2 linked regions of the Homo sapiens genome follow. The protein of the gene in region 2 purifies or fractionates together with the protein of the main gene of each other region. This does not show direct contact. Each region holds a gene or a part of one and is shown on either strand. Other genes may lie near its edges.

What was found.
Region 1: the proteins of TIMM8B (region 2) and AFG2B purify together in Homo sapiens (co-immunoprecipitation; 2 studies listed by IntAct, with this or other methods). This does not show direct contact.

What each region holds. Positions count from the first base shown.
Region 1 is NC_000015.10:45,419,049-45,421,932, reverse strand, and holds the end of AFG2B (ATPase family gene 2 protein homolog B), read right to left. Parts: intron 891-2,884; coding exon 723-890; 3' UTR 518-722; downstream 1-517. UniProt on the Homo sapiens protein: ATP-dependent chaperone part of the 55LCC heterohexameric ATPase complex which is chromatin-associated and promotes replisome proteostasis to maintain replication fork progression and genome stability.
Region 2 is NC_000011.10:112,084,289-112,091,989, forward strand, and holds TIMM8B (mitochondrial import inner membrane translocase subunit Tim8 B), read right to left. Parts: upstream 2,469-7,701; 5' UTR 2,436-2,468; coding exon 2,352-2,435; intron 2,023-2,351; exon of another isoform or gene 1,679-2,022; intron 1,175-1,678; coding exon 1,007-1,174; 3' UTR 512-1,006; downstream 1-511. Other genes in the region: SDHD (succinate dehydrogenase [ubiquinone] cytochrome b small subunit, mitochondrial isoform a precursor), read left to right, coding at 2,620-2,671, 3,569-3,685, 4,579-4,723. UniProt on the Homo sapiens protein: Probable mitochondrial intermembrane chaperone that participates in the import and insertion of some multi-pass transmembrane proteins into the mitochondrial inner membrane.

The sequences.
Region 1 (2,884 bases), on a different chromosome or scaffold from region 2:
AAAAATGTCAGGGTCAAGAAAGATTGAGACACTGTTTCAAGTTAAGAGGCTAAAGAGACATGGTGACTAAATGAAATGTGTGATCCTAGACTGGATCCTGTAATGGGGAAAATTACCATATAGGACGTTATTGTGACCATACATGAAATTCACTGGATGATAGATTAAAATACTGTGTCAGTATTAAATTTGCTGAATTTGGTCATATAATAACCTTATTTGTAACAAATACACACTCAAGTATTAAGGGGGGAAAGGGACATTATGTATATAATCTATTCTCAAACCACTCAAAAAAAAATGTGTGTATGTGTATATGTACAAGGGGTGGGGAAGACAGAGAAAGCAAATGTGGCAAAATGTTAAAGATTAGTGAATCTGGGTTTGAGCACATAAAAATTCTTTGTACTATTTTTGCAACTTTTCTGTAAGTATGAAATTATTTCAGGGTTTAATAAAAAAGCAATCACCCAAAACCAACCACCCCTTACAACAAAATCAACACACACACACTTTCTTCCTAAATTACAGTATTTTATTTAATATGCCTTTTAAAAATAAATGAGCCTTAGCTTATCAGGCACAAGTTTTTTTTGTTTTGTTTTGTTTTATTTATTCACTTACAGGAAATATAAACACAAATTCTAAAAGTGTGAAGTTGCAAACGACAGGCAAGTTCACATTTCAATTAATGTGAACTGAACAAGAGTTTAAGGTGATTTTTAAATACCTTCCACGTTAGAAAATCCTTCTTTCTTAAATAAGTTTTCATATAAAGCCAAGTCCTTGCAACTTAACGACGGTTTTACAGTCTTAAGTGATTTTAGAAAGTGCTCTTGTTTCACTGTAGTTGCGTCTAGTCCATTTTCTTGCAGAGCCAGCAAAGCAGCCTATTAAGAGACAAGCAATAGAAAACAATTTCTTTTGCTTTTTTTTCTTTGAGATGGAGTTTTGCTCTTATTGCCCAGGCTGGAGTGCAGTGGCACGATCTGGACTCACTGCAACCTCCGTCTTCTGGTTTCAAGCAATTCTCCTGCCTCAGCCTCCCAAGTAGCTGGGATTACAGAAGGCTGCCACCACGCCCAACTAATTTTTGTATTTTTAGTAGAGACAGGGTTTCACCATGTTGGCCGGGCTCATCTTGAACTCCTGACCTCATGATCCACCTGCTTCAGCCTCCCAAAGTGCTGGGATTACAGGTGTGAGCCACAGCGCCTGGCTTCTTTTCTTTTTTTTTTAACAATATATGGTAATACTTTAAACTCTGAATGGAAAATCTCAGCCTCACTTCATAGGATTCTAATTTTCATGTCACTAAAAACATTATGCTAAAAAGTTAAATAAGGTGATTAGAAATCCACTTTGCAGACCATAACCTCTTTACATTAATGGGAAAAAAGAAAGCATTAAATGAGAAGAAAGAAAAGGCAAGTTGCAGATTAATATGTATTTTATGAACCCATATGTATTTTTAAAGATGAGAGAATATCTTCCTGATCGTTAAGTAGGGAAGAGTCTTCAGCCAGCACTGATTATAAAGGAATAGATCAAACACATACCCTATGACCCAGCAATTCTCCTTGTAGCTAACTATGTTTACAAATAGACATAAATAGACACGGGAACTAAGAGACATGTACAAGGCTGTTCACAGCAGCATAACTCATAATAGCAAAAAAGTAGAAACCCAGATATTCCAAAATAAAAGAATGGATAAACAAATGTAGAATATTCATATACTAGAATATTATAAACTATGCTACACACAAAACTATGGATAAATTTCTTTTTAGGTTAAAGAACCAGACAGAAAATAACATATGCCACATGCTTCCATTCATATAAAGTTCAAAAGCAGACAAAACTAATCCCCACTGTTGTTAGTCAGGAGAGTGGTTCCCTTTTGTTTTGTTTTTTGTTTTTTTTTTTTTTTTTGGGGGGGGGGGACAGAGTCTTGCTCTGTCACCCAGGCAGAAGTACAGTGACACAATCATGGCTCACTACAGCCTTGACCTCCAGGCTCAAGTGATCCTCCCACCTCAGCCTCCTGAGTAGCTGGGACAATTTTTTAAAAGTTTTTGTAGAGACAGGGTCTCCCCATGTTGCCCAGGTTGGTCTCAACTCCTGGGCTCAGATGATCCTCCTGCCTTGGCCCCAACAAAATGCTGGGATTACAGGCATGAGTCACTAAGCCCAGCCAATAGTTCTCTTTTGGAAGAAGGTAGGTGACAGAGGTTGGGAAAGGGCCCAAAGGAAGATTCTGGGGTGTTTATAATGTTCTATTTCTTGACATAAGTAGTGATTATAAAAATGTGATCACTTTAATTCAATGAACTGTACCCTTATGATCCGTGCATTTTTCTGAATGTTATATTTAGTAAAAGTTTACGAAAAAGGGTATCTTAGAGTGGTTTACAAGGACCCGTGTGTCCTGGCCATTGTCTACTCCTTCAGCTTTTTTTTTTTCCTAAGAGACAGAGTCTCACTCTGTCACCCAGGCTGGAGTGCAGCGGCACGATCTCATCTTACTGCAACCTTCGCTTCCCAGGCTCAAGCAATCCTCCCATCTCCCCCTCCCAAGTAGCTGGGACTACTAGTCCCCCACGTAGCTGGGACTAACACCACATTTGACTAATTTTTTATTTTTTCTAGAGATGGGGTCTCACTGTATTACCCAGGCTGATCTTAAACTCCTGGGCTAAAGCAATCCTCTCGCCTTGGCCTCCCAAAATGCTGGGATCACAGGCACGAGCCACCACGCCTAGCCCACTTCTTTCGCTTTATTTCTTGCCATTCTCCACTCTAAGATTCAATAATGTCACACCATCTCTTATCTTCAATCCTTTGCACATTTTATTCTCTCCACCTCAAACATTCCCCCTTC
Region 2 (7,701 bases):
CATTCCATGAGTTGGTATTTTTAGTTCTAACTGCTAAATTTGTTCTCTTTACGGGACAGATTTCTAATAAAGTGCTTGGTCTTAAAATACATGGTTGGACAGAGGTGCCCTATCCCTTAACTATGAGCAGGTGCTACCTTTTGGGATATTTATTTTAAATTTTAATACTTTGGTACTCAATTGTCAGTGTTCCATGGTGTGTATTTTTATTTTTGGGATTAGTGGGGGTCTAAAGGGAGAAGAATAGTCTCTAATTACTACCTCTTAACCTAAAGCAATTATTTTGTTCCTGGAGCAAGTTAAATCTTTGTTGGAAGGAGCTTTGGCCATATATTTTTTAGCATGCATTGTTTCTGTGCCCTGAAAGTACCTGAAAGGTTTTAAGCACAGACTCAGGAAAATGTGCCAGTAGAACAGGCCATCTCCAGGAAATTGGCTCTATTTGGGTCCTGACCTTCCCTTCCTCCCAAGTTAGCAGGCTTGTTCTTTCGCAAGGAATACACATCTTGCCTTTTTTTTTTTTTTTTTGCCATGTTTTCCTTTTCTTGGTCATGTATAAGCAATAAAGCTGTTTTTTGTTCTTCATCTTTCTTAACCCCAAATTTTCTTCTATGCCTTAGGCTTCGATGGTTCTTCCAACCCCCTTAATATGGCTTAGGGTGGTTTTTCAAAACCTACAATCCCCCATTTGCACTACTGGCCATGGAACATTTATTTCTAGTGTTCCTGCCAATCAGAGATCTCTATATTAAATTCTAAAATGGGATTAAAAGAAGAGTTGGAGAATTCACACTTATTGAGTAACTGATGTCATACAACCTGGAATTTCTGAATTCCAAATAAATAAATTTCACTCTTTGAACATTTCATCTTTTACTTTTTAGCACCAACAGACTTGATAACAGCCTGATGCTGATCTGACAATGGGTTGATAGCCTTCCCCCACTGACCCTTAAATCTGCTTAGTAACAAGTCCTTTGCTTCTGTCATTCTCCTGGGGGATGGCCTACTGCCCTCCTTTCTGTACAATCTGGGCAAACCGACTGGTGATGGCAAGAGTGGTGTCAATGAAGCGGTCTACACAGCTGGAGAGACAATTTTCAGTGCGAGAGTCTAGGCGATTCCCTGGCTTCTCCACACATTTATCCCAACATAACTCCATGAAGTGATGCACCTAAAAGGAAAGAAAAATAGTAACCATTGGGGTCTGCAGATAGGCCTAACTCTTGTTTATTAACTTCTCACTTTTTGACACCTGACAAAACCATTCTTTAAATCAACCACGGAGTCACTTTGGGCTCTTCTCTTTCTTCATTTCCTAATTAGTCACCAATATTGATCCAGATCCTCGTCCCTACAGATTGTACATTCTCAGGTAGGACTAATAACCTTTTATATTCCCCAAAGTAGCTAGCACCATTGTGAACCAACTAGGGAACCAATTAATTTTCCCAAACTATTGCACTCATTTTATTCCAAACCTATCCCCTAGACAAGGTAATTCTTCCATTAACCTTTTGGGGGTTATGGATCCACTCCCCAGAAAAATGCACATACAGGCACAGAAATTATGTGCACTGTCATTAGAATGTTCAGGGCCCAAAGATTTCTAGCCAGGGTTCTTGCTGGTCATCCGAGCACCCTCTTCCTCCCACCCAAAAGGAAAAAACCATTTTACCAAGAGCTTACTATTTGTGAGGCTGGGTACTAAGAAATCAGTTCTCTCTAAGGTCCTCAAGGATAGCTGTCATCACCTCCCATTTAAGAGGCGTGATTATGTAGTCCAAGGTCATGTAGCCAGCAAGAAGTCAGGCCGCGTTAGAACCATGTCCGAAGGGCTCCAAACCCTTGTTCTACATCCATAGTCTACAGCGACTACTTCAGAGTCCACCTTCCTCCGATAATGTTCTAGTCGTTTTCAAATACATTGTCGCATATGATCCTCACAATCCAGTGAGGCAGTGGGGTGACGGCGACACCAAAACCCACAGTGGATGAGTATCTTTTCTACGGGCACGTGGCCTGCAAGGAGCAGAGGGAGGATGAGAACCCAGATCTTTCGAATGCCAGCCCAGTCATGTCGCCGGCTAACTAGTCTCCCGTACCCTTGCGTCGCCCAAATCTTCCCTGTTTTACACCTTTTCTTTTCTCCACGCTACGCTTATATACCTGGCACCTGAGCACTACCGGTCACCAGGGACAGGAGAGCCATAACTTTGTCTTTCGTGAGGGGAATGGGATGCAGCCGGGATCGAGCACCAGTGAGCCGCCAGTGTACAGACCTCCGAGCGTGCCCAGGACCACCAAGGAAGGTGAAACTTCCTTTCCCTTCACCCTCCCCGTCCCCGCACCTGTGCAGTAAACTGCGCCTTCTGCTGCTCGGCGGCCACCAGGCGCTGCAACTCCGCTTCATCGGCTTCGCCCAGCTCCGCCATTGTTCGCCTCAGGCTCGCCACCTTCCGACAGCTGTGTTTGCGCATGCGCGACGGGTGTGCACCGCCTCTCGACTTCCGGTTCACCCAGCATTTCCTCTTCCCTGTTTTCTTTCGTCGTCGTGGGTGGGAATTGTCGCCTAAGTGGTTCCGGGTTGGTGGATGACCTTGAGCCCTCAGGAACGAGATGGCGGTTCTCTGGAGGCTGAGTGCCGTTTGCGGTGCCCTAGGAGGCCGAGGTGAGGGGTCTTCCCACCCTGAGGTGCTTAGCGTAGCCTCCAGCCAGGGAAGGGGATGGAAGTGAGGACTCATCTGCCGGGTGGGAGATCTCTTGAGGAGAAGAAAATACCGAAATCACAGCAATGACCACTGTAGTCTAGGGGTCCAGATGTTTACCCGAAGGTATATTTCACTTGCTGTGAGCTGACGAGTTGAGGGAATAATCAGAAAGAGAGCTCCCTCTGGAAGTCGCAGTCCTGATGAGGCTAATCCACATAGCAGTTCTGTTTTCTCCCCGTTCACTGTCCCTAGAATGCTCCCCACTCGCTCCCACCCTGAGTCGGGAAAGAGGGTTAGGAGCTTGCCCATTTCTTCTGGAGTTGGTGTGTTTGGATGTGGGAGTGGAGGGGGGATCAGTTCGAAAATCATTTAACCTGGGCATTTGTGTTACCTCAGGTACTGTAGTAATGCTAGGATACAAATGTGAAGAAAACGTAGTTCCCGCCCTCAACGAGCTTTCATTCTGATGAGGAAAACACTGTCATAGTAGTCCGGGCAAGATGAGGTCCTGAACTAGGAAAGTAGCACAAAGAAAAGAAGATTGTCTCAAGAACTGTTAAAGAGATACGCCAATAGGATTTGGCGATTGAATTTAGGGGAAAAGTCTCTCATGATTTCCAGATTACTGAGTTAGGTTAAAGAATGCCTGAGGTGTCATTAAATAAAGTAGGGAACATGCAGATGTTCCCTGGTCTTAACTTCACAGTAACCCCAGTGAAATAGATGCTATCTTCATTTTACAAATAAGATGTTATCCCCTATTTATTGTTAAGTAGCTTACCTATGGTCATTTAGAAAGTTTGTCAGTCCTGTTAAAGGAGAGGTTCTTATGATCATCCTAATGACTCTTTCCTCAGCTCTGTTGCTTCGAACTCCAGTGGTCAGACCTGCTCATATCTCAGCATTTCTTCAGGACCGACCTATCCCAGAATGGTGTGGAGTGCAGCACATACACTTGTCACCGAGCCACCATTGTATGTTCTCTCCATCGCTGCTGCTTTCTGGGCTCTAGCCATCTTTACCTTCACTAATGGTCATGCCTTTAGCAGGACTTCCTACCTGTAGGGGGGACTCTTGTGTCCAACTTTGTCAAATGAAGACCTAGTTTACACCTTTGGGCAGACAGTGCCATTATGGTTGAATGATGCCATTTATAATCATAGAAGACCTTCTAGCCTAAGTCTTTACAAATTTTTTTCTTTTGTTTTCTTTTTTTTTGAGACAGAGTCTCGCTCTGTTATGCAGGCTGGAGTGCAGTGGTGCGATCTCGGCTCACTGCAACCTCCACCTTCTGAGTTCAAGCAATTCTCCTGCCCCTGCCTCCCGACTAGCTGGGATTACAGGCGCCCACCACCATGCCCAGCTAAGTTTTGTACTTTTAGTAGAGACGGGTTTCACCGTGTTGGCCGGGCTGGTCTCAAACTCCTGACCTCCTCAAACTCCTGACCTCAGGTGATCTGCCCACCTCAGCCTCCCAAAGTGCTGGGATTGCAGGCGTGAGCCACCACGCCTGGACCACTAACTTACATTCATAAGGTGTCTGTTCACTTCACTGAACCAAGACTGGCTTAATTCTGTAGCAATACAGCAATTCTGTTTTTTATCCATCTTCTTGGATCTGTCTTCTAATCAATATGTAGGCATTGAGATACCCTTGTGCTAAAAGACTTCAAAAAACAGAGATAAAGCCTTCAAAAAACAGAGATAGCTTCTCTCAACTACTATTTTGATATTTTACTTCCTTTGTACTCAGAGTTATATCCTATATGTACACTGCCTGTCAGTTTGGGTTACTGTGTGGCATATGTTGAACATGAAAGATGTGTGTTTCTCACATCAACTTTTATGAATCTGGTCCTTTTTGTAGCTGGCTCCAAGGCTGCATCTCTCCACTGGACTAGCGAGAGGGTTGTCAGTGTTTTGCTCCTGGGTCTGCTTCCGGCTGCTTATTTGAATCCTTGCTCTGCGATGGACTATTCCCTGGCTGCAGCCCTCACTCTTCATGGTCACTGGCAAGTATAGCAATTCCAAATATAGTTGTCTGCTCAGTTTGTTTGCTGTGAGCTTGTCTTATGTATTATATATGAGGGAGAAGTTGATTGAAATGCCCTAAATTTGTTGAAAACTTTAAAATATATATAAAATATGTATATGCCTAGATTTATATATCTGCCTGCCTATTCAATGTCTTTCAATTCGATTTCCGTATCTAATAGCATTTTGAATGTAGCCTGTCAAACTGAATTTCTGATCTCCCCTAATCTGTTCCTCCTGCACTCTTGCCCCATCTGAATTAATGGCATTTCCAGTTTTCTCTTTGTTCAAGTCTAAACCTGGTAAGCTCCAAACTTGGTCATTATCCTTGACTCTAGTAGTAGTCTCCTAACTGGTTCCCATTTGTGTTCATTCCCAACACAGCATACCCAGTGATCCTGTTAAAATGTTAATTAGAATAAGACATTCCCCTTCTCAAAACCCTATTTTGTCTCTTCATGTTACTCAAAGTCAGAATTCTTAGGGTTGTCTGTAGACTCTACATGATTGAACCACCCTGTTTCTTCCCTCATTTTTAGCTGCTCTCTCTCTCATTCACACTGCCTTCCTTGAGATTCCTTGAACATGCCAGGGACATTCCAGGTCTCAGGGCTTCTCTTACTGCTTCTGCCTGAAACTCTTTTTCTAGCTATACACTTGGCTTGTTCCTTCATCTCCTTCAGGTCTTGAATGCCATTCTCTCAACAAAGCCTTCCCTAACCACTTATTCAAAATTGCAGTTTCTGTCCTGCCATTCCTTATCTCTCTTGCTTGTTTTATTTTTCTCAATAGTACTTACTGCCTTCTAATATACTACATCATCTGTTCATTATTTTATATAGTAATTGCTTCCTTGCATTTTATCACCCAAATGTATATCCCTAAATAGTATAGTTTATTCTTGCCTCTTAAAAAAAAAAAAGAGATGTATGTGGGTGGATTATTTTGTTATTTTTACTGTATTTGTTTGCTGTTGTGCCTCTAGAGCCTAGAACTACTCTCTGGTACGTGACATATAGCACTCAGTAAATACTTGCTGAATGAATGAGCATCCAGCGCCTGTTTGTTTGTTTGTTTGTTTGTTTATTTTTTGAGACAGAGTCTCGCTCTGTTGCCCAGGCTGGAGTGCAATGGTGTGATCTCAGCTCACCACAACCTCCGCCTCCCAGGTACAAGCGATTCTCCCTGCCTCAGCCTCCCAAGTAGCTGGGATTACAGGCGTGCACCACCACATCCGGCTAATTTTTTTGTATTTTTAGTAGAGACGGGGTTTCGCCATTTTGGCCAGGCTGGTCTGGAACTCCTGACCTCAGGTGATCTGCCCGCTTCAGCCTCCTAAAGTGCTGGGATTACAGGCGTGAGCCACCATGTCCGGCCCAGCTTTTGTTTATTTTATCTGGTATAGTTTGTATGACTTTCTACGTAATGAACCTTCTAAAATGAGGGTAAATGACAGGTTGGGTTCCTTGAGTTGTTCTTTTTAAGTTTTGCAAGGGACAATATGTTGTCATTGTGGGGGGTAGGGAGCCACTTTCGGATTGTTGAAACTGGAAGTACTTTGGAGAGTATCTTAACCAACTCTTTTATTTTACAGATTTGGAAACTAAGACCCAGGGAGGTTAAGTGACTTGTCAGAATCATTTTCTAGCTAGTGTTAAAGATTTTTTTTTTCTTTTTTTTTTGGGACGGAGTCTCACTCTCACCCAGGCTGGAGTGCAGTGGTGTGATCTTGGTTCACTGCAACCTCTGCCTCCTGGGTTCAAGCAATTCTCATGCCTCAGCCTCCCAAGCAGCTGGGATTACAGGCATGCGCCAGCACACCTGGCTCAGTTTTGTATTTTAAATCGAGACGGGGTTTCACCATGTTGTCCAGGCTGGTCTTGGACTCCTGACCTCAAGTGATCCTCCCACCTTGGCCTCCCAAAGTGCTGGGATTATAGGTGTGAACCACCGTGCCCAGCCTAAAGGGGTTTTAATTATCTGGTTTTGTAGGACTGGTTAGGAGAATGAGTTGTTGTTGTTGATGTTGTTTTTTAACCACACAGACCTTTCCAAATAAAAGATTCCAGTTGCATATGAAATATTAGATCACAAGTACAGTAAGTAATATTTCTCTAACATGTCATCCCTCTTGAAGGAGCTGTCTATAATGTGCTCCACTTCCTCAACACTGAGTCTCTTTTAGCCTGTATTAATTGGGGTCTTATCCCAACTATATAACTTAGGTTATTCTTACCAAGGGCACTGAAGGCCTTCATCTTTCCAAATCCGGTTGTCTATTTTCTGCCCTCCACTTGCTTGAAGTCTCAGCCGCCTTCAACTCAATTAACAATTCTCCCCATAAGTCACTTTTCTTTGGCTTTCCAGATGCATAGAAGTCTCCTCTGCCAGATCCTTCTCCTCTTGTCTGACCTCGAGATGACAAAATCTCCAGGGCTGAGTCATGGCCTTCTTAATTTCTCCATCTGTACCCTTTTTTAGGTGAGCTCAGATCTGACCTGTTTTTCTGAGCTGCAGACTTGTTTATCTAATTGTCTAATTGACATCCACTTGGATGTCTGATAGTTATCCCAGATCTAACATTGGCCAAATCGCTCTTTTTTCCCCCCAAATCTCCCTTGATTTCTCCTTTAAAACCCCCTTCTCAAAGCTATGCTCAAACTAAAATTCTTAGGAGTCATTCTAGATATTTCTTTTTGTTCTTACCCCACTTATTCCATCAGTTCTGTTCTTTCTTTAAAAAATAGTCTGAATCGGCCAGGCGTGGTCTCACGCCTGTAATCCTAGCACTTTGGGAGGCCGAGGCGGGCGGATCATGAGGTCAGGAGTTTGAGACCAGCCTGGCCAATATGGTGAAACCTTGTCTCTACTAATAATACAAAAATTAAGCTGGGCGTGGTGGCACACGCCTTTAGTCCCAGCTACTTGGGAGACTGAGGCAGAAGAACCGCTGGAA